Linked DNA regions of Homo sapiens. The protein of the gene in region 4 purifies or fractionates together with the protein of the main gene of each other region. This does not show direct contact. Each region holds a gene or a part of one and is shown on either strand. Other genes may lie near its edges.

Region 1 (3,500 bases), on a different chromosome or scaffold from region 4:
GTGGTGCAGGGTATGTGCACAGCATGGGAGATGGAGTCTTCATATTTAGCCCCTATGTGAATGGCCGTGTTTGTTCATTTTCCGTCTTGTTTAGGGAGGCCCTCAACAGTGGGCTGGCAGTGGGAGGGAGTGGTGGGGCTCCACATGTGACAATCGTGGAGGTGAGGAAGAAAGAAAAAGTAATCAGCTAGGTAGACAATGGAGAGACATGGCTGCCAAGCCCTTGAGGTAACCCCTCAAGGATGCTGGGTTGTGTAGGGAATTAATATAAAGTCCTGATTGAAAAATAGTTCTTCCCTAGGAGTTGGAGCTCGTTTCATCAGCCAAGTATTAAAAAGCAGCAAAAAGTTTCTTGCAAACAAGAGGGTACTTTTTTCTCCATCAACTATGCAAAAAATGTCTTCTAATAAAATGTTATCTTAGTAAATCTGAGACTTAGGAGAATATTTGATCTATATTTGGCACTGTGGGACATGGCCACAGTCTAACCTGAAAGCTTGTCACGTGTGTCACTTTGAATGACAAGGACTCTATGACCTACTCTTATGTTCTGAAGGAGGACATCCAGTGCTATGGATTAAGCAGGATGGCTAAAGAAAGTTCTTCGCTGGTTTAAGATGTATCAGACCTCCTTTTCCTCTGTTTTGAATAAAGGCAATAAAGCTGTGAGAAGAAACAGTACCTTTGAGATCCCTGGGAAAAATACAATTTTTCTTACTCTTACTAATTTCTCTACAATAAGAAAACTCCTTTCTTCCTAGTGTTGTTGATAAAATTAAATGAAGTGGTATGTAAAAGTGGCCCTGCACAGTTATAGACAGCATGGAGTGGTACAAATACATCTGGCTTTGGGCCAGATGTTCTGGCATTTGAATCTAGACCCTGCTACCTCTCTTTGGGAGGTCAGCTTGCTCACCAAGCTCCTGCGTCTGCAAAGCAAGAGTCATGACATCTAGTTGGCAGAGTTATTATGAAGGGTAAAGACAATATTTGTTTTCAAGCTCCTCCCTCTGTGCTCTGTGCTGAGTAGGCACTCAGCAGTCAGCGTTGTCATCAGTATTATGGTCAATGTTGTCAGAAATCTTGTCTTCGTCAGGAATGTAAGGTGAATCCAGTAAAGGATCTTCAGATGGTCTTGAGACCCCAGAGATTTCAGGAGTGATGGTAATAACATCTTGGAAGCATCACTGCAGATATTTCAGTGACATCATTGCTAATCCCACTTCCGCCATTTCCCCCCTCTCTTGTAGTTGAGAATGAAAATCATTGCGATTTTGTGAAACTTCGAGAGATGCTGATCCGCGTGAACATGGAGGACTTGCGAGAGCAGACTCACACCCGCCACTATGAATTGTACCGACGCTGTAAGCTTGAAGAGATGGGGTTCAAGGACACTGACCCTGACAGCAAACCCTTCAGGTATGAAGGCATCTAGCAATCAGGTGTCTCCCAGACAGTGGCGAGAGTGGCATGGTGGTACATCACAGAAATGCTTGCTGGATTGAGATGGTGATGATGGAAGGATCTGGTGGGTGAAGATTAATACATATGTTGTCAGGCATTGTGATAATTGCTTTATTTGCATTATCTCAACTAACTTACCTAGTTGATGTCATTATTATCCACATTTTACAGATGAGGAAACAAAGGCACTGAAAGTGTAAACAAACTGCCCAAGGTCCTCCAAGTAGTAAACAATGGTGTGGTGTTGAGCTCTTGCCATCTGGGTCCTGAGCCCAGGTTTCTGCCAGTTCTCTTGCAGAGGTGCAGAGCCTGGTCGATATATTTACAAAGGTGCGGCTGCTGATTACAGTTTGCCCCATTCATTTTTGCCAAACACCTTTAACTTCCGGAGGCTCTTCCTTTGTCAAGCACTTTTACTATTAGCTTTCAGTGGTTCGGTAAAATTCTAACAACAAAGAATCAGGAGGAAAGGAGAATAGCTTTTAGGAGATCTATGTATTTTCTTATATCACTGACGGGTGGAGACGCAAAATGTGAAGGGGAGAAATGGATGTAGAATTAATATCCTAGCCGAAGCCCAGACCCCGTCAGAATCCAGTGGTAGGGATAGGGCTGGCAAGGCTGGGGTGCTGTTGCCCACACCGTAGTGAGTCATGGGGTGGTTCTGGGTAAAGTTGTGGGGTGAGGCTGCCAGGCCAGGTTCACCACCTCCTGGTCGAGGAGAGGATTGTCCAGATGGTGCCCAAGCAGTTTTCTTTCTTTTTTTTTGTTTGAGACGGAGCCTTGCTCTGTCACCAGGCTGGAGTGCCTCGGCCTCCCAAAGTGCTGGGATTACAGGCGTGAGCCACCGCGCCTGGCCCCCAAGCTGTTTCTTAATGGGGATTTGAATTCAGGTGGTGTGAGGTGTGTCTGGGCTCTGTGCCTTTACAAACTGAGGGCCATAGTTCCTTGGGGAAAAAAAACCTGTCTTTCTCCTCTTTGGCCTACAACACACTCTGATGTCTACAAGCTGGCTGACAATAGAACCGGAGGCAGCCTGTGCACAGCAGATTCTGTCCCCGTGGGTCTGTAGGAGGGAGTTTATTTTCTTGCAATTGCTTTAGAGATAGTTTAGGAATGCCTGGGCTTGTCGCCTGGCACTGTGCTGCTGAGGAGTTCCATGAGCATGTGTGTATGCAGTGAGAACAAATGCAGAACCCAGACAAGGGGCATACCAAGAAGTTAACTTCTAGCCAAGATTGCATCATTCACTTCTGCCCTGACGGCTTGCAAAACTGACCATCTCCAACCATGTGAAAGTCATGTTCTGAGGCGAGGTGTAGGACACCTTTTTGTGTACACAGGTTTAGCTAATTGAACCTTGAAATGCATTTACCAGAAAATAATCCTTACAAAATCAAGTCCACTTTATGGTTACTAAACCTGATGAAATGGTTTCTGTGTGGGAAAGGCCGTCTTCAGTATTACATAAAATATTTGTTTTCATGCAAAGAGATATGGAACAAAAGGAACTGCCATAAAATTGAATTCATTTTCCCCTCACCTTCATTCAAATCCAGACAGTGTTGAAGAGCACTGGGCTAGGAGTCAGGAGTTTGGGTTCAGTTCTTGGTCCTGCTACGCTACAAGTTCTTAACCCATCTGGGCCTGAGTTTCTTCATCTGTGAAATGAGGAGCTGATCCAGATCAGGGAATAATTAGATCCAGTAAAAAAAAATTTTTTTCCATACTGGGTTAGACAGTAAATATTTTAGGTTCTGCAGGCCAAACGGTCTCTGTCACAACTATTCAGTTCTGCCCTTGTCGTCCGAAAGCAGCCATAGACCATACTGTAAATGAATGGGCATGGCTGTGTTCCGGTAAAACTTCATTTACAAAAACAGATGGGGGGCCAGATTTGGTCCTCAGGCTGTAGTTTCCCAACCCCTAGACGAGATCATAACTTGGAGCCTGTGAACTGCCTGCAAAAGTTAGAATGCATGTGACTGCTTCTTGAGTTTGTTAGAGGTCATTTACCTCCCAAAGTGTTTTACTTC
Region 2 (3,500 bases), on a different chromosome or scaffold from region 4:
GCCTGCTATATGCCGGACCCAGTGCCTAGCACACACTTAGTCACATGCAGGGGGTGGGGGATGGGGGAGGGAGGGAGTATAGAGGAAGGGTCAACAAGAGCAAGGTATTGTAGAGTGTTGAGTGTTAAACAGGGTAGAATATGAGCCGTCCATGCGCATTCTGAGGGTGGGAAGGGCTAAATATTTACATTGCAAGATCAGAACTCAGAATGTGTAAACATCAATATTTTTCAAGTTAGGGGATTTTGAATATAAAAATCGTTAAAATTGGCTTTACGTTTACTTAATTAAAATGCTTATGTTTTTGCAAAAGTAGGAAAAGAAGGGATTAAAAATGAAAAATAACTTCTTATAAGAGCTGTCTCGGTTTTAAACTCAGACAGAACAGTCACATTCCTCCCCAGCAATTCTTAAAAAAACAGAAATTAGTACCATGAGTAAAAGAGAAATTACCTAGCTTTGCATAATCTCTTGTGTCTGTTTCACAAGTGGATATAAAGATGACTTTTACATCCTGTTGCCTTTTGACAAGCATTATATATCAAATACAGAGAAAATTGATTAAGTGTGGAGAAAAAAACTTATATAAATTAAATTCAGAACCATTTTGCTTTTCATAATAAAATGATTGCTCAAAGAATTCCATTTGATGACTGTTGAAAGCTCACTGCAGTTTATGATATAACTGATAAAATCTGCATCCTTGGCCTTCCAACAACCTTTACACCAGCAGATGGTGGGCGTAAAGATGTCATTCATCATTTATTTACAATGGGTTTTATTTATTCTAGTGTCAACAGCTGCCCCAGGGAGTGGGTTATTGAATTCAAATGTGAGGCTCTGGGTTATTTGCTTCCTTTCAAATTTGTCTTCAGAGCTTAGTTGCTAGGAGTCCATTCTGTCCTTTAATAATGATTCGTGTATTGTGAAGCCATTCAGTAAATTGGGTTGTCAGGGATTGCCAAAAAGGGTTTAGAGGTCTTGCGGGCTGGGGAGGTTGCAGGAGCGACTACATGTGCACTACATGTGCGTCTCGTTGACTTGAGCAATCTTGAGCAATAGCGGTGTTTTGTAACTTTTTCCTAAGACTGGTGAAGTTAAGTTTTCTTGTCTCTCTTTATGCACTCCTTCCCTACCTGCTCTTATTCTGTATATGAATAATATGAAAATGTAGAGGACATTGTATTAAAGGAAACTCTCCAACCTTTTTTTTCGTTACAGGCAGGGCAAGAATCCTTTCGTTCCATCACAAGGTCGTATTACAGAGGTGCAGCAGGAGCTTTACTAGTTTACGATATTACACGGTGAGAACTTGAAAACTTTGCAATTCAGTAGTTGATACAGAGAATTTTTCTAAATAGATGTGGTTAACAGTAATGAAAGAATAGCTTAGCCTTTCTGCCCCGGCTACTCACCTTTAAAACTGCATCTTGAGTCCAATTTAAATTTACTACAGAAACCTGCAACTGAATTGTTTTTCTTATTTGAATTAGCACCTTCAAATTGAAATCGGCCATATTATTTATTCATTGGAATTTTCTAAAGTGTGATTACATTTAATTTATAAACTGAAATACAATCAGTGAACTCTAAACCCAGATATGGTGCTTAAAACTACTTCTCGTTACATAAGTGGATATGGCTAAAAGTGGTTCTCTTTAAAAATATGTATATTGTTCGTTGTATACTGAGGGAAATGCTTTGAACATAGTAATTAAATTATTATTTATGTTTAGGAGAGATACATTCAACCACTTGACAACCTGGTTAGAAGATGCCCGCCAGCATTCCAATTCCAACATGGTCATTATGCTTATTGGAAATAAAAGGTAAAAAGGCTAATTTAGAGCTTACATTGCATTAGTGATGAAGACTGTACTGTTTATTTGACTACTTTCCTTAACATTTGTTCAAATGTGAGTTACCAGCCTCTTAAATTATAAAATTTCGGAAATTCTAAGGTGTTTCTTTTGATTTTTAAAATGATGTTAATAAGCTTTGTTGGAAATTATTACTGTTATTATTAGAAATAGTTTTTGTGTAAAGAAATACTTTAAAAAGTAATCTGAAGGAGTTTTATCAGATTACTGATGTAAAGTAAAGCCTACTGATTTATTTGGGGAGTTGGATTGAACATCTTTGTGCTGTCAATTTAAAATGCTATTATATGGGAAAACCTTCTTGCTTGACCAGTTTCCATAAACTTCTAAGAGTGTGGGAAAGTTTTCACTAATTTTTGTAGAAACTTACAGTGGTAAGAAAATATTAGTATTTTCAAAATGCTAGGCACCATTCTTTTTGTTTTGTTTTGTTTTGTTTTGTTTTGTTTTGTTTTGTTTTGTTTGAGACAGGGACTCACTCTGTTACCCAGGCTAGAGTGCAGTGGTGTGATCATAGCTCACTGCAGCTTGGCCTCCCGGGCTCAAGGGAATCCTCCTGCCTCAGCCTCCAAAGTGGCTGAGACTGTAGGCATGCACAACCACAGCTAGTTTATCTTTTTATTTCTTATAAAGAAAGGGTCTCACTTTGTTGCCCAGGCTGGTCTCAGGCTCCTAACCTCAAGTGATTCTCCCACCTGGGCCTCCAAAAGTACTGGGATTATAGGCATAAGCCACCACACCCGGCCCATTCATTCTTTAGGGTTATATTAATAAAATACTCTGAAGAGATGCTGTTTTTAGATAGGTAAAATCATGACTTATATGATAATGAAGACATCTCAAAACTTTTATCTCATTAATTAACAAGATAAGGAAACTGGTAAGATATTTCAGCCAGTTCAAAAGGGAACTCAAATTACTATACATTGATAATCAAATAAAGAAACTGAAATGAATTTACAAGATGGATGCAAAACTGAACAGTATTCACAGGGTATTAATTGTATTCCACAGGACACAGTCTGCATTTCCATGGACAGGAATTATTTGCGTTTATTCCCACAAGTTAACTTCTCTCTCTGCAGTCTTTGAAAATGTGTGAGATGCAGTTAAAATAGTACTATCAAGAAAATTTTTAAATGAACAGCCTAGGGCCAGGTACAGTGGCTCACACCTGTGATCCCAACACTTTGGGAGGCCCAGGTGGAGGATTGCTTGATCCCAGGAGTTCAAGATCAGCCCGGGCAACACAGGGAGACTCCATCTCTACAACAAATTTTAAAATTTAGCTAGACATGATGGTGCATTCCTGTGATTCCAGCTACTCAGGAGGCTGAGGTGGGAGAATCACTTGAGCCCAGTTGAGGCTGCAGTGAACTGTGTTCATGCCACTGTACTCCAGCCTGAGCAACAAAGCAAGACCTTGTCTCAAAAAAAAAAAGAAAATAGCCTAATTTTTTTGCCTTAAGAAACTAGAATAAGAGCAAATCAAAGTTAAGGAAAGCCTCCTGCCCGTTAAAAAAAAAAGAGAGAGAGAAAACCAATGAAACCAAAAGCTAATTCTTCAGAAGATAAAATAAAATAGATACTGATCAGGAAAAAGACAAACATTAGCAATAT
Region 3 (3,500 bases), on a different chromosome or scaffold from region 4:
CCCCAGCGTTGAATTCAGCTACCCAGGTGCCAAGGCGGGAAGGGGTTGTGGGCACAGGAGCATGGGCAGTCCACACCACACCACCTGCCCCAACCCTGTTCTCCTCAGCAGATTTTCAAGTTTGATGTAGAAAGCCCATCTATTCTTAAAATTTATAAAGGAATCTTATTTCCCTCTTCTCCAGTATTCAGAGCAGATTGGAGCTTAGGAAGAAACTCAGCTGCAAGCCTTTCAAATGGTACCTTGAAAATGTCTATCCAGAGTTAAGGTAAGTCCCCAGGGATCTGGGGTTTCACTTTGTAAGGGCTTAGAAGCCAGTAAGGCCATAGAAGCAGCAGAGGGGAAATGGAGGTGGGGCTGCAGGCATGAGATTGGGCACCTGGGCCCCAGTGAGAGCCTGTGGTCTCACTCCATGGTGTGGAGCTGAGAATCTGCTCCCAAGTTGGCCTGCTGCTGTCTCTGTCCTGCAGAGCTGCCCTCCCATGCTTCGGAGTCCCAGAGGCAGTCCCCCGGGCCTCACCTTGTTTTTGGCTTGTTCTCCATTGGCAAGGTGATGGGCTGGGTGACCTGAAGGACTGGTGTCTGACAGGCTCTTCGAGTGACCAGGAGCAGTCCCCAGCCTCCGCAAGCATGCAGTGTCTGCAGCCAGCCCTCGATCCCCCCGCCAGGCGCCTTTGCATGCCTCCGATCTGCTGCGCTCACCCTTGCTGCTCCTGTGGGCCAGCAGATAACAGCCCCCACGAGGCTCCCTCCTCCCAGCTAGGTTAATCACATGTGAAACGGAAGTAATAATGCTGCTGCCCCACGTCCCTCCGGAGGATTCATGGCAGAAACACCTTTCTGAGCATTATTTCCACACCCAGCCTCTTGTTTTAAGCGAATACGAGCTCCCCATCTGGAGGGACCTGCTGATAACCTCGTGAGAAGACCTATAGATCCGCTGGGGTGGAGGAGCCATCTGCACTTCATCTTCTTAAAGGGACTGTCAGGCAGGTCGTGCCTTAATGCGGCACATTCCTTATTCTAAATATTCCCAGAGCATTTTACAGCGGCTCACATATCTCCAGCACAGTGCCTGCGAACGCAAGACTTGCCACCATTATCTTTCCGCTAACAGCTCCTTCAGAGCCCTTGTCACGGAGATTTGTTGGACAGTTAGGTAATGCGGCCTCTCTCTGTTGCTCCTGTTCGCTCACTTGGCTCTTTGGAACCGTTTCCTCTGCTTTTCAAGTAACATGCCAGGCGCCAGGTGGCCCATGCCCCCTAGGAGGAGAACAGGAGAGAACACAGCGTCCTTCTCCCTCGGATCCCTGCCGTGCAGGACAGCTTTTGCTGGGGATTGAGAGCACCAGATGGTCACCAGCGATGGTCACCTGCAGCGGCAAGGGTGCACTGGTCACAGTTGCTGGTTGCAGGGCCCTGGTCTTCTTCCTGCCAGCTCTGTCCTCTCGGCCATGTGCACTCAACCCAAAAGAACCCATTCTGCCTCTGTGTCTGGCCCCAGAATATGATGTCTACACCTCCTGCCTGGTGTCCCTATACAACAGATTCTTGACTGTGGGCACTAAGGCGGCTGCTCATCAACTCTCCGTCAGCCAAAGAGGGGCTTCAATTCAGTGGATTTTAACCCAACCATGCCACTCACTTTGCTTTTTCAGTCACAGTTGACTGCCATTTCTCACAGAGGTCACCCATGGTTTGTAGTGACACTGGGCCCCGCACCCACTGAAGACCACATCTGAGGCACTGAGCACCATCCTGGCTGGCAAATCTGCTTCCCCTGTCTGTGGGGGGTGAGGGAGACATCAGCCTCGTGTTTTGTGTCTGTAATATCACCGCCGTTTACTGAGTGCCTCCTACGAGCCAGGCACTGGGCCGTGTGCTTTACACGAAATGTTCTATGTAACACTTGCAGCAGATCTGGGTAGCCCATAGCCTACCAAAGGGCAAATCGAGCTTCAGAGAAAGTGAGTCTTGCCTGAAAGCCAGCACCTGGCAGAGGTGGGCTGAGGTTTGGATCTGGTTCTGAAGCACGTTGTTCTTCCCCGTGGCTGTGGCTTTGTTCACATTAGACCACCTGACAAGTCTGCCCACCTTTCCCGTCTTTACTGGATAAAGGTCAGATCCTAAGTGTATTGGAAAGTTCAAGGCAACAGGATCTGACCACATTGATTTTCTAAATGACTTCCAATAAGACTAACATTGAAGAGTATCAGGAGCTTTTCCTTCCTTTCCAAAAAAAAAAAAAAAAAAAAATGACCTGATATAGAATATAAAGAATACTTCTGCAACATACAGTCTTAAAGTGTTGGAAGTCCAGAGCCTGGGAGAAATGCCGTGTCCCTGACACACACTACCTGTGGTAGGAAGAGGCACGATGCCTAGTCACTGGGTCTTTCTCTCGTTCCTGTCACCTGTCATGAGGCCACTGAGCAAAGGGGCTGGTGGACGGGAGCTGGTGGTCATGTGCAGTGAAGCAGGTGATTCTCACGTTGTTTTTCAGGGTTCCAGACCATCAGGATATAGCTTTTGGGGCCTTGCAGCAGGGAACTAACTGCCTCGACACTTTGGGACACTTTGCTGATGGTGTGGTTGGAGTTTATGAATGTCACAATGCTGGGGGAAACCAGGTATGTGCATGGGGAAGCCAGGTCACCTGCAGGCCCAGAGAGAGCAGGAGTTGGGGGGGTCCTGATGTTAGAAGTCCCAGCTGCCACCTTTCTCCTGGGATGGGTGATGTCTATGAGGAAGCACCTGGCTCCTGCTGGCCACAGCCTCTTTGGCAGCCAGCACCAGGGCCAGATAGAATGTCACACACTTTGGTGCATCAGCTCTGTCATCAGCTTCGGACCAGGCTCTGCTGCAGCGGCAAGGGTGCACTGGTCACAGTTGCTGGTTGCAGGGCCCTGGTCTTCCTGCCAGCTCTGTCCTCTCGGCCATGTGCACTCAACCGCAAAGCACCCATTCTGCCTCTGCGTCTGGCCCCAGAATATGATGTCTACACCTCCTGCCTGGTATGCCTATACAACAGATTCTTAACTGTGGGCACTAAGGCGGCTGCTAGTTATAGCCCCTGCCTGTTAGATAATAGCTTAAGATAGAAGATACTCAGTATTAATTGCTTCCATTGCACACATACACACCTTTTCTGAGAGGCATAAAAATGCACAACCGCCAGGCGCCGTGGCGCACGCCTGTAATCCCAACACTTTGGGAGGCTGTGGTGGGTGGATCACCTAAGGTCAGGAGTTCAAGACCAGCCTGGCCGACATGGTGAAACCCATCTCTGCTAAAAATAAAAAAAAAATTAGCCAAGCGTGGTGGCGGGCACCTGTAATCCCAGCTACCCGAGAGGCTGAGGCAGGAGAATTGCCTGAACCCGGGAGGCAGAGGTTGCTGTGAGCTGAGATCACACCATTGCATTCCAGCCCAGGCTACAAGAGCAAAGCTCTGTCTCAAAAAACAAACAAACAAACAAACAGAAAAACCCACTACCTTCT
Region 4 (3,500 bases):
CACAGAAGCATTCTGTGTTGTGAGAGAATAGTAGGAGAAACTGAGTTGGTTTTTTTCTGTATCCTCAGAATTGATGTCAGGATTGGGATTTGCTAGAGTGGCTCTAGCTAGAGTGGCTCATCGAAGCATGGTTTAGGAAGAAAAAGGATAAATGGATGGGAAATGAGGAACTTTTGACTCCTGGGTGGTCAGATGGTCACCCCTGCTATGGAGCCACAACTGTGCTGTGCTCAGGTACTTAAAAATTACCAGTGGAATTCAAAGATAGATCCAACTCCAAGGGAGTTGGTTCACTGGGTGCATAAGGAAACGCAAACAATAAGAAACAAACAAAATATACAATCCCTTGATTATTGTTATTTGTGATAGCTAAAATCAAAGTGAAAGAGTGCTGGATTGTACCTTGATGCTAGACCAAGCTCAGGTTTCATTTGGTTTAAGCCTTGGCCACCAGCCTCAAAGCCACCTTGCAAGGGTAAAAAGTACCCCTAAGACCTGTATTTGCTGTATTTTGCCCAGTTTGGAGAAATTTAAAAAGTCAGAAGTTAGAGATTACATTGAGAAATGTGATCTGAAATTGCCTGGGGCAGTAGTCAGGCTTATTAATCAAGATAAAGGCTGACAAATGGGGAAGGGTAGATTTCTGTTGGAAAGGCAAAGCAAATATCTCTAATTCTTACTGATCTGTAACGAAACTGATTTTTTTTGTACCATGCTCATACTGCCATATGGTAATATTGTTGGCAGATTAAACTCCCTTGTGTAAATAAGTCTTATAATACTGATTGATGATTATATGTATTGTGAAATTGAGTTGAAGCCTCCTCAGGATATAATACCTATGGAAAGTGACTGGCCTGAGGAGGAACTGGATCTCACTATCAGCTGATTTCCATCCTGAATAGTTCTGCACAAGGTACAAATAACAGTAGATCAAGGGAAAAGAAAGCTGGTACAAGATGATAAAGATGTTTCTAATGGCTTCTGTCAACCTAAAGGAAGAAACTAAGGCACAAAATACAATTTTAAAGAATTTATTTGCACCATAATGAGGACAGCTGCCCAGCAGACTCAGATCCAAGTGGATTTGAGCTCCATTTGGCCCTTGTTACAAACAGGTTTTTAAAGGCCAAAAATTCGGGACAGGATGTGGGCTGATACAAAGTTGTTTGGCAGGAATTCTCTTTGGTTTACAGAAATAACATTGATTAGTGATTGGCTATACATTGTTCTTTGTATCACAGATTCCAGGAACATGAAGATAATGGGTGAGGGTCACATTGTGCAGTAACACTTTAGATATTTGCCAGCGAGCCTGGAAACTACAAGGAAGGAAAAAAAGAACAAAGTGTTTTTAAACAATTTCCCCTAGGCATGGGGGTGTGTCCTGTGACTAAAGTCTCATTCTCATGTCTCTCTGGGCCTGATAAACTTTGCATACCTCACATTCCTCATACTGCTGAGCTATTTTTTTTTCTCTTCATAGGACCGAGTAGGTTTTTTTTGTTTTGTTTTGTTTTGTTTTGAGACGGAGTCATCCAGGCTGGAGTGCAGTGGCGTGATCTCGGCTCACTGCAACCTCCACCTCCTGGGTTCAAGCCATTCTTGTGCCTCAGTCTCCTGAGTAGCTGGGATTATAGGTGCCCACTACCACACTCGGCTAATTTTTGTATTTTTAGTAGAGATGAGGTTTCGCCGTGTTGGCCAGGCTGGTCTCAAACTCCTGACCTCTGGTAATCCGCCCGCCTCAGCCTCCCAAAGTGCTGAGATTACAGGTGTGAGCCACTGCGCCCATCCTAGTTGCTTCTTTAAACCTATCCCTATCCCACAGTAGCTTCTCCAGATGATAGGCATATTTGTGTTTGTACTCTTGTAGATATGTCTGTTATATAAATGCAACAAGTGTAAACATCCTTGACAGATATATGGACCTTTTTGCTGTAAGGGATCCCTGTTTGAAACCAGGGGGTGGCCTATGATACTATGGTGTATATATTTTGGTTTTTGTCAAGTTCCTGGCTCACAGCTTCTATAACCCTTGCAATTTCCCAAGTGACTAGAGCCGTAAGAGTGTATTTTGTTGAGATATTTGGCCATTTGTCCTCGGTTCCTGAAACAGCTCCAGAGCATAAAAGTGAAAGACAGTCTTTTGTGGGTTTTTTTTTTTTTTTTTTTTTTTAATGAAATCTCACTGTCATCCAGGCTGGATGGAGTACAGTGGCACCATCTCTGCTCACTGCAACCTCAACCTCCGCCTCTCGGGTTCAAGCAGTTCTCGTGCCTCAGCCTACTTAGTAGCTGGGTTTGGAGGTGCCTGCCACCAAGCCCGACTAATTTTTGTATTTTTAGTAGAAATGAGGTTTCACCGTGTTGGCCAGGTGGGTCTCCAACCCCTGACCTCAGGTGATCCACTTGCCTTGGCTCCCAAAGTGCCGGGGTAACAGGAACGAGCCACTGCGCCCTGGGCTATGTTGTTATTTTTAACAGGCCTCTTTCAACCACATCTGAACTTATGTTAATGAGGTGATTTTTGGATAGTCCCTAGATGGCCACATGGTAGGGGGTGCTGGTTGCTAGGGAACAAACCTTCTGCCTTGGGGAGGGCATAGTAGCTAAAGGTTGAGCCAGTGGCCAGTGATTTAATTAATCGTGCCTTTGTAATGAAGTCTCCTTTGTAATGAAGTCTCTGTAAAAACCCAAAGGACTGAGTCCAGGGGGCCTTCAGGAAGGTAAACAATAATACATTCATGTCATGGGAGGGTGGGGCACCCCAGCTCCACAGGGATGGAAGCTCCTGTGCTTGGGACCCTTCAAGACCTCACCTATAAAGGAAAAGATATATAAGTATCTTTTCATCTGGCTGTTCATTTATATCCTTTAAAATATCCTATATAACTGGTAAATGTGTTAGTCCCTGAGTTCTGTGTGCCACCCTAGGAAATTACTTGAACCCCAGGGGGTTGTGGGAACCCCAGTTTATAACCAGTCTGTAAGAAGCAGAGGCAAAAGAACCTGGAGCTTTCAGTTAGCATTGAAAATGAGGGCGGGGCAGTTTTATGAAACTGAGCCCTGAACCTGTGTGATCCGATGCTCTCTCTCCAGGTAGATAGTATCAGAATTGAATTAGAGAACATCTAGCTGGAGTCTGCTGCAGAATCGTTTGCTTGATGTGTGGGAAATTCTCCCTAGGCCTTATGAGAGTATAGAGGGAGAAACTGAGTTTATTTTTTCTACTCCTTATCACAGTTTCATGGTTTAACTCTTACTGTTAAATAATAGGAATTTTTTTTTTTTTTTTTTTTTGGAGACAGAGTCTCACTTTGTTACCCTGGCTGGAGTGCAGTGGTGCGATCTCTGCTCTGCTCACTGCAACCTCTGCCACCCGGATTCAAGTGATTCTCCTGCCTTAGCACCCCGAGTAGCTGGGATTACAGGCGCCTGCCACCGTGCCTGGCTAATTTTTGTAGTTTTAGTAGAGACGGGGTTTCACCATCTTGGCC
Region 5 (3,500 bases), on a different chromosome or scaffold from region 4:
TATTTGTGTCTCTAAGGAGTCAGATGTGAAGTGGGTGGTGATGGTGGTAGTAAATTTCTGTGTGTTTCTCTGTTAACCCAGGAAAGTATAAATACCATGAGTAACATATATTTATAGCACCTACAGAAGCGGCTCAAATTATTTCTGCAGCAGGTGATACCCTGTCGGTCCCAGCCCCTGCAGTTCAGCCTGAGGAATCTTTAAAAACTGATCACCCTGAAATTGGTGAAGGAAAACCCACACCTGCACTTTCAGGTAATTTAATTATTTCTATTTGTTCTTTTATACATGATACACTCATCAGAACTATTTAATGCCTAGGCAACACGTAGACACTAAGTATACATTTACACTAGGTTTAGGTCTTCAGAGTTTCTTAGGAAATTTTTAAAATTTAAATGTCCGAATGTATCTTTTTAAACAAGAAGATTAAAGCCTGATTCCTATTTCTTCATTTTGGAATCATTAAGAGTAATGATATGGTTTTAGAATTCTTAACACAAAAATGCCCTGCATTGATATAACTGGCCAGTACAAACGATGCTTTTTTTATATCCCTGTTAGCTATTAAAATTCTATGCTGAAATTTGATTTCCTCTTATTTACTTTTGCTGCAAGAAGAAGCATCCTCATCTTCTATAAGGGAGCGACCACCTGAAGAAGTTGCAGCTCGCCTTGCACAACAGGAAAAACAAGAACAAGTTAAAATTGAGTGTATGTAAACCAGACAGCTTCTTAAGGATTTTGGGTCATCTCCCAGTTGCTCTCTTCTTAAACTATCAGCACAAGTTTGTCATCTATCACCTAGTTGTGGTTTCTTTTGTTGCTGCGGTTGTTTTTTAGTGGCATTGCTTTATTCATCACCTTCATTTCATCTAAACTTCTTTTACCTAAGTGACAAAGGCTATTCTTAGTGTATAGTTGGTGAAAACTCCAAATAATACTAAAGATTATGTTAGCGCTAAAGATTCTTTATACTCTGGGAAACAGAAATTGATTATTTATGTTTTAGCAGCTTGCCTAAAAGTCCTTTATTTATTTTTTTGAGATAGGCTCTTTTCTGTCACCCAGACTGGAGTGCGGTGGCACTGTCATGGCTCACTGCAGCCTCAACCTCCCAGGCCAAAGCCATCCTCCCACCTCAGCCTCCTCTGTAGCTGGGACTACAGGCGTGTACCACCATACCCAGCTAATTTTTTAAAAATTTTTTATAGACACAGGCATCTCACTATGTTGCCTAGACTGGTCTCGTACTCCTGGGCTCAAGTGATCCTCCCACCTTGAACTCCCAAAGTGCTGGGATTACAGGCCTGAGCCCTTGTACCCAGCCCTAAGAGTCTTTTATTAATAATTGTTAATTTATACTTGTAAATAATTGTTTATTAATAATTGTAAATTTATTTGTTGGAGTCAGAATGGCTTACACTGCCTTATCATCTAGCCTCTGGACTCTCTAGTAGTGCTTTTATCTGACACTGGTGGGGCATGGAATGTTCTACACATCGCTGGTTTCCAGCTAACAAGCATATTCCTTTTTAAGTTTCAGTTTTATGGTTTTTTTGTTTGTTTGTTTTTAAGAGATGGGCTCTTACTGTGTTGGTCAGGGTAGTGTTGGACTCTTGGCCTCAAGAAATCCTCCCACCTTGGCCTCCCAAAGTGCTGGGATTACAGGCATGAGCTACCACACCTGGCCAAGTTTTTTTTATCATTATTATTATTTTTGCTGTCCTCGGTAGGTCAGGATTCTTAAATTTTTTGATGGTTTAAAAAAGATAATAGATATTTATCAATTTATTTTTCTGTCTTAAAGCACATGTAACATAATTTTTTGTACTGTGCTATAATATGTTGATGTCTCTGGAGGTCGTGGGATGTAGCTTTTTGCTGGACAGAGAGTTCAGTACTCATGGCAGCTGTTTATAGTTTTTTGATCTCCTTGTCATTTGTTTTGCTCCTGTTTCCCTTGTAATGTGCTGGTTCTGCCCTACCCTGAGGAACCAAGTTTCTTAGAATAGCATAGGTGTCATTCTGTGCCTATGGCATTAGTTTTCCTACTTGGATTTGGATTTTCGTTTTTGATTTTTTGTATTCTTCTGATTGTGTTACAAATATTTGTGAATATTTAATAAATGACTTCTAACTAAGTGAAATATTTCATTTTTCCTACTTCTTTTTTCTTTTAGTCCTGTTTTTTCTTCACTTTTCACTTTTCTCTCTTTATCACTTGGGCACCTTGAAATTAAGTTATAAACGTAAGATGGAGATGTCTGCTGTTCCAGCTGTTCTTTTCCTTGCCTGGTTCCTCTCATCTTTCATTTTGGGCAAAGTGAAAATTTTCAGAATTTTATCTGTCACCTCTTAATTCCCCCTCAAACTTGACTTTAAAAATATACACATATGCATTTGCATGTGAAATATTTATCAAGGATCAAAGGACAGTGACTAAACCTCTGAAGAGGGCTGGAAGCAGCAGGTGCCTCCCAGCAGCCCACTTTCTGTGGCCTCCATAAAGTGGTTCACAACTGCCTGTACTTGATGTCCACTGTTCACTCACGCATGTCATGGGATCCAAATACCACGGTTTCTCTCCCTTGCCCCTTTCTCTTGTTGTATCCCCTGCTCTCATTTCACTTCTATCACTTCTGTCAATTTCTTTTTATTTTCTCCTTATTAGTTTTCCTCTTATCTTTCTTGCAGAGGTACCATTTGTAGTTCCTCAGATTCCATTTGTTCATTGCTAGTTTATGCTTCTTTTCCTCAAAATCATCTTTTTTTCTCGCTTGTCAAATACATTTTTTATTTTTTGTCATGTGATATCATTTATTTAATTAATTTGTTTTGAGACAGAGTCTCACTCTGTCACCTAGGCTGGAGTGCAGTGGTGCAATATCGGCTCACTACAACCTCCAACTCCCAGGTTCAAGCGATTTTCCTGCCTCAGCCTCCTGAGTAGCTGGGACTATAGGCACCCACCACCATGTCTGGATAATTTTTGTATTTTTAGTAGAGACGGGGTTTCACAATGTTGGCCAGCCTGGTCTCGAACTCCTGACCTCAGGTGATACACCTGCCTCGGCCTCCCAAAGTGCTGGGATTACAGGCGTGAGCCACTGCGCCGGCCCATTTATTATTAAATTAGTATTCTTACTAGCCGCCTTTCTTCAAATGACCATTTATTTTTGCATTTTAGTAAATTATCTAAAATTGTCATTTGCTTTACTTTTTGGTATTCCCGAAACAGCATATAGAAATGTGATCTTAATAGATGGAAGCCTCTTGAACATTGGTGTCTGCTATTTCTTGAGTCCTTTTATGGAAGAACACTGTCCATTTCAAGTTGCCTTTGGGTTTTGTTTTGTATTTTTTGACCTGTTTTCTTATTTGTCTTTTTCTTTCTCTTGTCTGTTTTCTTGTATCTTGTCAACATAAGTGTTTTGCTATGAGTATTCCTTCTTGCCAAGGGGATGAAATGGGCACCTCTTTTTCCCTGTTACGATTGT
Region 6 (3,500 bases), on a different chromosome or scaffold from region 4:
CATATAGTTAGTAGGTGATGGATTCCAGGTGTGAACTTGGGTCTTACTGCCTTGAAATCCTTTGTTCCATGATACCATACTGCCTCAGAAGTAGAGTTCTTCATTAATTTCATGTGGTTTGTTAATGGGAGGGTAGGAACTCGAATTTCACACACTTCTCCCAGTCCTGTAATTCCAGTGTTATCCGCCATTCTTAGTAAGAGGTGTGAGGTCTTGGAGTTAGGTAAGAGGGCAGCCCATCTGACCTATTTGTAAAGGTCGATTGTGTCTTTTAAGTGTCCCTTGTTCCTCAAAGGCTGGAAGAAAGAAACGATTTCCTTGTTCCATCTTTTGCTGCCAGGAATGAATAAAGCAGAGGAGTTTGTGCTTCTAATCTACTTCTTCACAAAGGAAAAGATTTGTCATGCTTCTTTGGAAATGGGACTGAATTCTGATGTATTAGCTTTTACATATGAAAATTTGTATTTTAATTCCTTGAGTTTGAATAACAGATAATATGGGAAATCTAATATCATACAGGCTCAGAATATCTGCTCTGTTCAGTATCAAACTTATCCTTTGCAAACTCTCTTCTTCCTGTTGGTTTGTTTTTAATTTTGACCAATAATACCACTGGTTCTTGGCCCCCATGTCCAGCCCAGCTAGTCAGGAAATCCAGTCATTTCCACCTTTTTAGTATTGTATGTCTCATCTTTAGTATATCGTCTGTGCTATAAGTCTTATACCACTATCCTGTTTAAAATTCTTCTGGAAAGCCAAGTAAACTAGAAAGGATAAAGTTGAAACTTGTTAGCATGGCACATGTGGTCCTTCCTGATGTGGCCGTAGCCTGCCTTTTCAGACCCATCTCTTTCTACTTCCTACTCAAGTGAATTTGATTCCTGCTTCAAGCAACAGGAACAGCTCCTTTTTCTTAACCTCTGCATTTACTTTTTCCTGTATCTGGATTTTTCTTTTTCCTGGAAAATTTTTATTTGTTCTTTAGGGTTCAACTCAAGGGAATCACTTGTATGAAACTTTTCCTTTTGTCTTCAGGTAGAGGTAAGCATACATTGCTCTGTAATTCCATCATGCCTTTATTTATTCACACTGTGAGAGATGGTATTGTGCAGGTATCTTCTCAGTTTATCTTTTTGTTTCTGAGACGGAGTCTCACTCTGTCGCCCAGGCTGGAGTGCAGTGGCACGATCTTGGCTCACTGTAATCTCCACCTTCCAGGTTCAAACCATTCTCCTGCCTCAGCCTCCCGAGTAGCTGGGATTACAGGTGTGTGCCACCACGCCCGGCTAATTTTTGTATTTTTAGTCGAGATGGGGTTTCACCATGTTGGCCAGGCTGGTCTTGAACTCCTGACCTCAAGTGATCTACCTGCCTCGGCCTCCCAAAGTTCTGGGATTACAGGTGTGAGCCACTGTGCCTGGCCACTTTCTGAATTTATCTTTAGGCTATTTTATTAACAGTTGATTTCTTGATAACTAGGACTGTTTACTTCCAGGATTAGATGGCATTTTATTCATTTAAACTTGTCAAGCAAGAATAACCTCTTTGTTCTTTTTGTTTCCCTAGTATCGGTTTTATGGAGAACCTGTAATAAAAGCATGTATTGAAAATGGAGCCAGTTGTATCGACATCAGTGGAGAACCTCAGGTATAAAAAATAAAAAGGAAAAACGTAGAATTAACACATAAATTTCGGTTTAATGAAGTGGAAATATTTAGTGTAATTTTGCAGACATATTTAGAAGCCGACAACTCCTTTCTAGCATTCAGATATGGTATTCGTGTGGTATTCCATTGATAGCTCAAAGGAGAGCGCTGATGGTAAGGTCTTAGCTTCAGTTTTCTGAATTTTTTCCCTCCCTACAACATCATTTCTTATAGGTCTGTGCTTATTATAGCTACTTCATGCTTTAAACTGAATCAATTAAAATAGCGGACTGTGCATAATTCTTAGAATCTCAATTCTGTCATGTTTTCATTTTGAATTCCCTTTTAAAAATCAGGTACCTTTAGGCCGGGCACGGTGGCTCACACCTGCACTCCCAGCACTTTGGGAGGCCAAGGCGGGCAGATCATGAGGTCAGGAGATCGAGACCATCCTGGCCAACACGGTGAAACCCCATGTCTACTAAAAATACAAAAAGTGAGCCGGGCATGGTGGCGGGCACCTGTCATCCCAGCTTCTTGGGAGGCTGAGGTGGGAGAATGGGGTGAACCTAGGAGGTGGAGCTTGCAGTGAGCCGAGATCACTCCACTGCACTCCAGCCTGCGCCACAGAGCGAGAGCGAGACTCTGTCTCAAAAAAAAAAAGAAAATTCAGTTACCTTTATAACATTACAGAAAAATAAAGGTAAAATTCACTAGTGTAAAATCAACCTAAACATTTTAAATGTTCACATTTATTGAATGCTTACCATATGCCCAACATTGTGCTAAGTGTTTTATGTAACTTTTTAAAAATATACCTATAGGGTAGTTATCTTCCTCCATTTTTTGTAGATGAGGAAATTAAAGCTTAGGAAGCTTAAGTAACTCACTCAGTAATGCACCTAGTAATGCACCTAGTAATGCACCTAGTAAGTAGAAGAACTAGGTCTTCAATTGAGGTTTGCCTGACCACAGGAAGTTATGTGTTAACAGGCATTAAGCTCTACTACAGCCTTTAAAATGGTAACCTCATGTGTCTCTGTAGTAACTACTGATTATCATCATCAGCATGCCAATATGATATTAATATGCATTTGCAGTTTATCAATTGGTAAAATACTGGAAAATACTGAGACAGTGTAAATTACAAAAATTGATTCAAAAAGGAGGAAACAAATTAAAAAAAAAAAAAAGCCCAGGCGAGGTGGCTCACGCCTGTTACCCCAGCACTTTGGGAGGCTAGGTGGGAGGATGACTTGAGCTGGTGAGTTAACAAATTAGCCAGGAGTTGGTAGCACACACCTGTGGTCCCACCTACTCAGGAGAATGAGACAGGAATATCACTTGAGCCTGGGAGGTCAAGGCTGCAATGAGCTATGATCATGCCACTGCACTCCAGCCTGGGCAACATAGTGAGACCCTGTCTCCAAAAAACAAAAACAAAAAACAATTCCCATGTTATTTTAAATAACCCAGAACATAGAAAATGGTGAAAAGCTTTTAAGTCATCTAGAAACTATCATAAAAGTAGTATCGAACCCCCCCCTTTTTTTTTGATACAGGGTCTCTCTCTCTCACCCAGGCTGGAGTGCAGTGCTACGATCTTGGCTCACTGTAACCTCTGCCACCTGGGTTCAAGCGATTCTCCTGCCTCAACCTCCTGAGTAGCTGGGGGTACAGGTGCACACCACCACACCTGACTAATTTTTGTATTTTTAGTAGTGACAGGGTTTCACCGTGTTGGCCAGCTTGGTCTTGAACTCCTGGCCTCAAGTGATCCACCTGCATCGGCCTCCCAGAATGCTGGGATTACAGGCATGAGCCACCACGCCCAGCCATAATATCAAAACCTAA
Region 7 (3,500 bases), on a different chromosome or scaffold from region 4:
CCCCTTTTTTTTTTTAGCTATACTTGCTGGAGTGGGCGGAAGACCCCTTTTCAGTGTGCCAGGTATGGGAGTGCAGAGATGAAGGCACAGTGCCCAGCCTAAAGACCTTCATAGCCTGGTAGGGCAGCCATATAAACGGATGGCAGCCACGCAGAGAACAGAGAATGAGGTAGTTACATGCGGGTGCCTGGGGGGCTGCTGCAGGAGCCCCCAGAAGGCGTCCCTCTGATGGGGTGGGAGATCCAAAAGGGTTTCTGGGGGGAGGTGAGGATTGAGCTGGGTCGAGAGGACATTCCGGCCTGGAGAACTGCCACACAGAGCCAGGCGTGTTCCAGGAATGGTGAGGGGTTAGGTGTTACTAGAGCAGGGGGCCACGTGGTTAGTGAAGGAGGAGAGCTCACTGAGGGCATGCGTGCTGGCAGCAGGTGGCTTAAGCAGAGGGCTGACATGGTCGGATTTGCCTTGCTCTGGGAGGTGGATGGGAAAGCCGTATGGCAGCAGATAGGGAGGAGGCGCCAGCAGTGGGGATGATGGTGGGCATGTTTGCAGTTGACATGGAAAGTGCTGGGTTGTGGCTTGGGCTGGGGGCCAAGAGGGCTGAGTCCAAGGCGGTTTGCCTGCCCACCACTACAGCAGGGGCTACACGAGGTGGTCAGGTCAGGCAGGACAAGGGAAGGCCCGTTTTGGACAAGCTGAGTCTAGAATGTCTCTGGGGACATCCAGGAGCCAATGTTTAGCAGGAGGTTAGGTATGAGTCTGGGCCACAGAGAAAACCCTTTCGGGGATAAGAGTGGCTGGGAGGAAGGTATAGGGTGTCAGCTGAAGAGTGCAGACCCCAGAGGGAGCAGAATAACAGTGGGAGGAGGGTGTTGCGAGGGGACCTCAGGAGGGTAACTTAGCAGCAGAGCAAGGAGTTCAGGGTGACCTCCGGCCTGGGCGGTTAGGAGGCCACTGGTGGCCCTGCTGCTGGCTTGGAAGGGCAGGCCTTGGCCAGCCTAGGTTGAGGAATATATGGGAGGGAAAAGACCAGGGGCTTGGGCAGGGTGACTCCAGGAAGGAGGCAGTTGAAGGTGAGGTTCCTGGGGGGAGAATGATCCCGGGTCATCCAGCAGGAAGAGAGAGGACCTAGAAGGTGTGAAAAAGAACTATCGGGCTGGGGGTGCAGTGGGAGGAGTATGCCCGGGGTGCTGTGGGGGTGGGGAGCGCCTGTGAGGGTTGGCAAGAGGAAGGGGAACCGGGGCCTGGCAGAGGGGAGCCCCAGACTGTCTCAAGGCTGGGAACTGAAGGCCTGGGCTGGGGCTGAGCAGGGCCAGGCTTTCGGACACACACAGCGTGGATCTTGCGCTGGACTTTGTGTATGCCCTGGCCTATCTTGGAAGCCCTGGTTCTCAATAGCCGGGAAGGGCCTGGGACGGTCCGAAAAGAGCTGGGCCTCTGCTGCACTGCCGCGGAAGCATTTGTGTTAGCTATCTCCCTGGGTACTGGGGTGACAGCCATGGGCACTCACCAGCAGCCGCTTGCCTGGCCTGGTGGCGGGGAGTATAGCCTTCAGTCTTGCTTGGTCCTCTCTCTACCACCAGGTGGCATGACCCCCACCCCTCAATTCCAGCTGGGAGGAGCGGTCCTCTTCCTCTTTCTACATCACTGGGATCCGCTCTGGGGCTGGGCAGCTCCTTGCCGGGGGCCTGGGTCTTAGTCAGACTTGCCTTTCTTTCTAGGCCTCTCCATTGACTTCTGGCCATGCCGATGTGAGTCAGATGCATTGTTTCTCTCTGGCTCCTAGGGCGCTCAGTAGCTTCCTCCACCTTCAGGCTGTAGCCCAGTGCGGGGCAGGCTGGTGGGCAGCTGGGGGCTGAGGCAGGGAAACCTGAGCCCTAGGCCACGAGGTCCTGGGCCGCTAATTTTAGAAAGCACATGTCACTGGAAACTCTCCTTCTCTGCCAGGAATCAACGGCCTGGCTCTCCTGGTGCTGCCAGGGGCCCCTGGGAGCCTCTCCCCAAACCAGGAACCTCAGGGGTGTCTCCTGGCCCGGGTGGGTACTTTCTGTCCTGAGTACATCTGGAAAGGGGCTCTGCCGAGGCCCTGGAGAGCCATGGCTTGGGCCAGGGAGGTAGCTCACCTTGTCTGCTCTTTACTTTCTCCAGCCCTTCCGGGCTGCCCCTGGCCATGAGCAGAGGCTGTGAAGTGTGAAGGCCTGGCTGGGGCAGGAGGCCACTTCGACTCTTCTGAGTAAGCTGTTGTTGAAGCACTCTGGACTAAGCAGATTTGTCTCTTCCTTCCCCCAGGCCCTGTGTGACCCTTGCCTTCTGAGGTGTGTGAGAAAGGAACCCCTGCCTTGTTTTGACTGTTTGAACGAGTCCTTCCCTCCTCTCTTCCTGCCAGCTAACATCTCGGGGCAAGGGTGAACCAAGGGAAATGAAGTGGCCATTCCAATCTCTGTTTGGGGACTAGCATCTGCCTCCAGCTGCCACCTGTTTGCCTGTCTCTCCTGGCTGCTTCAGAGAGGCAGCCTGCGCCTGTGTCCTGATTCCTCTACACCCTCCAGCCCAAGAAGACCTCATTCGGGGTGCTGTTACATAACGGATGTGTTCCAGCGCAGCCTGCATGATGGGTTGGGAAGGAGGCTGGCCAGAGAAGAGAGTTCTATCTTACGTTGGGACCTGGGAGCTGTTCCCTGTTAGTTTAGAGAGCAGAGTGGTTCCGAGCTCAGGTTCTGGAGTCAGGCAGACATAATTTGGAATTCCAGCCATGTCCATTTCTGGTTTTTGGCCTTGGGTACATTGATTTACGCTGCTGAACTTCAGTTTCCTCTTCTATAAGCTGGGGCAGTGATAGTAACTTCCTCATCAGGTAGATGTGAGGATGCGGCCTGGCATGTTGGAAGTGCTTGGATTGATTAGCTTCTCTCGTTACCTTACCAAGGCAAGCCCAGCCTCGCAGGGAGGAAGGTGGTGCTGTGGCTTGTCTGGCACGTCTAGGCCCCGACCCGGAAAGTGCCGCGTTCTGGGACCTCATGCTGTAGCGAGGCTCTTCCCAGCCCCCCAGGCTCCTGCTTCCAGCCCCTCTGAGAGCTGAGGGTGGCCGTTGGGCACAGCGGCAGAGGACGGCTCCTGGGCCCCACCTTTTCCCTCACGCTGCCAGCACCAGGTTGGCGGCTTCTCACTCGGCTGCCTTGGCAAGAGGGCAGGTCCAGGCTGGAGCTAGGTGTGGAGTGGGAGCAACCAGGAGGTGCTCCTGCCAGCCCTTCATGCTCTTTTTCTCACTTCTCCCTTCTTTTTGTAAATAATTGCAGCCTGCTTAGACGCCTGGTGACTCTCATTTCGCAGCAGGCCACGCTGCTGGCCTCCAATGAAGCCTTTAAAAAGCAGGCGGAGAGTGCTAGTGAGGCGGCCAAGAAGTACATGGAGGAGAATGACCAGCTCAAGAAGGTGAGCCCAGCTTCCCGACCCACCATGGGGCGTCCTGGTGTTACACTGTGGGAGCCACATTCTTCAGGGCC

What was found.
Region 1: the proteins of VDAC2 (region 4) and SEPTIN11 fractionate together in Homo sapiens (co-fractionation; 2 studies listed by BioGRID). This does not show direct contact.
Region 2: the proteins of VDAC2 (region 4) and RAB2A purify together in Homo sapiens (affinity purification with mass spectrometry; 2 studies listed by BioGRID and IntAct, with this or other methods). This does not show direct contact.
Region 3: the proteins of VDAC2 (region 4) and GALNT2 fractionate together in Homo sapiens (co-fractionation; one large-scale study listed by BioGRID). This does not show direct contact.
Region 5: the proteins of VDAC2 (region 4) and IMMT fractionate together in Homo sapiens (co-fractionation; 2 studies listed by BioGRID). This does not show direct contact.
Region 6: the proteins of VDAC2 (region 4) and SCCPDH fractionate together in Homo sapiens (co-fractionation; one large-scale study listed by BioGRID). This does not show direct contact.
Region 7: the proteins of VDAC2 (region 4) and BCAP31 fractionate together in Homo sapiens (co-fractionation; 2 studies listed by BioGRID). This does not show direct contact.

Annotation. Positions count from the first base shown.
Region 1 is NC_000004.12:77,019,252-77,022,751, forward strand, and holds part of SEPTIN11 (septin-11), read left to right. Parts: coding exon 1-10; exon of another isoform or gene 11-1,250; coding exon 1,251-1,419; exon of another isoform or gene 1,420-1,525; intron 1,526-3,007; exon of another isoform or gene 3,008-3,500. UniProt on the Homo sapiens protein: Filament-forming cytoskeletal GTPase. May play a role in cytokinesis. May play a role in the cytoarchitecture of neurons, including dendritic arborization and dendritic spines, and in GABAergic synaptic connectivity.
Region 2 is NC_000008.11:60,582,987-60,586,486, forward strand, and holds part of RAB2A (ras-related protein Rab-2A), read left to right. Parts: intron 1-1,221; coding exon 1,222-1,304; intron 1,305-1,736; coding exon 1,737-1,829; intron 1,830-3,500.
Region 3 is NC_000001.11:230,262,738-230,266,237, forward strand, and holds part of GALNT2 (polypeptide N-acetylgalactosaminyltransferase 2 precursor), read left to right. Parts: intron 1-184; coding exon 185-268; intron 269-2,503; coding exon 2,504-2,630; intron 2,631-3,500. UniProt on the Homo sapiens protein: Catalyzes the initial reaction in O-linked oligosaccharide biosynthesis, the transfer of an N-acetyl-D-galactosamine residue to a serine or threonine residue on the protein receptor.
Region 4 is NC_000010.11:75,224,296-75,227,795, forward strand, and holds part of VDAC2 (non-selective voltage-gated ion channel VDAC2), read left to right. Parts: intron 1-3,500. UniProt on the Homo sapiens protein: Non-selective voltage-gated ion channel that mediates the transport of anions and cations through the mitochondrion outer membrane and plasma membrane.
Region 5 is NC_000002.12:86,167,963-86,171,462, reverse strand, and holds part of IMMT (MICOS complex subunit MIC60), read left to right. Parts: intron 1-81; exon of another isoform or gene 82-117; coding exon 118-255; intron 256-618; coding exon 619-714; coding exon of another isoform or gene 715-722; exon of another isoform or gene 723-2,150; intron 2,151-3,500. UniProt on the Homo sapiens protein: Component of the MICOS complex, a large protein complex of the mitochondrial inner membrane that plays crucial roles in the maintenance of crista junctions, inner membrane architecture, and formation of contact sites to the outer membrane.
Region 6 is NC_000001.11:246,734,409-246,737,908, forward strand, and holds part of SCCPDH (saccharopine dehydrogenase-like oxidoreductase), read left to right. Parts: intron 1-1,566; coding exon 1,567-1,647; intron 1,648-3,500.
Region 7 is NC_000023.11:153,703,888-153,707,387, reverse strand, and holds part of BCAP31 (B-cell receptor-associated protein 31), read left to right. Parts: intron 1-3,293; coding exon 3,294-3,429; intron 3,430-3,500. UniProt on the Homo sapiens protein: Functions as a chaperone protein. Is one of the most abundant endoplasmic reticulum (ER) proteins.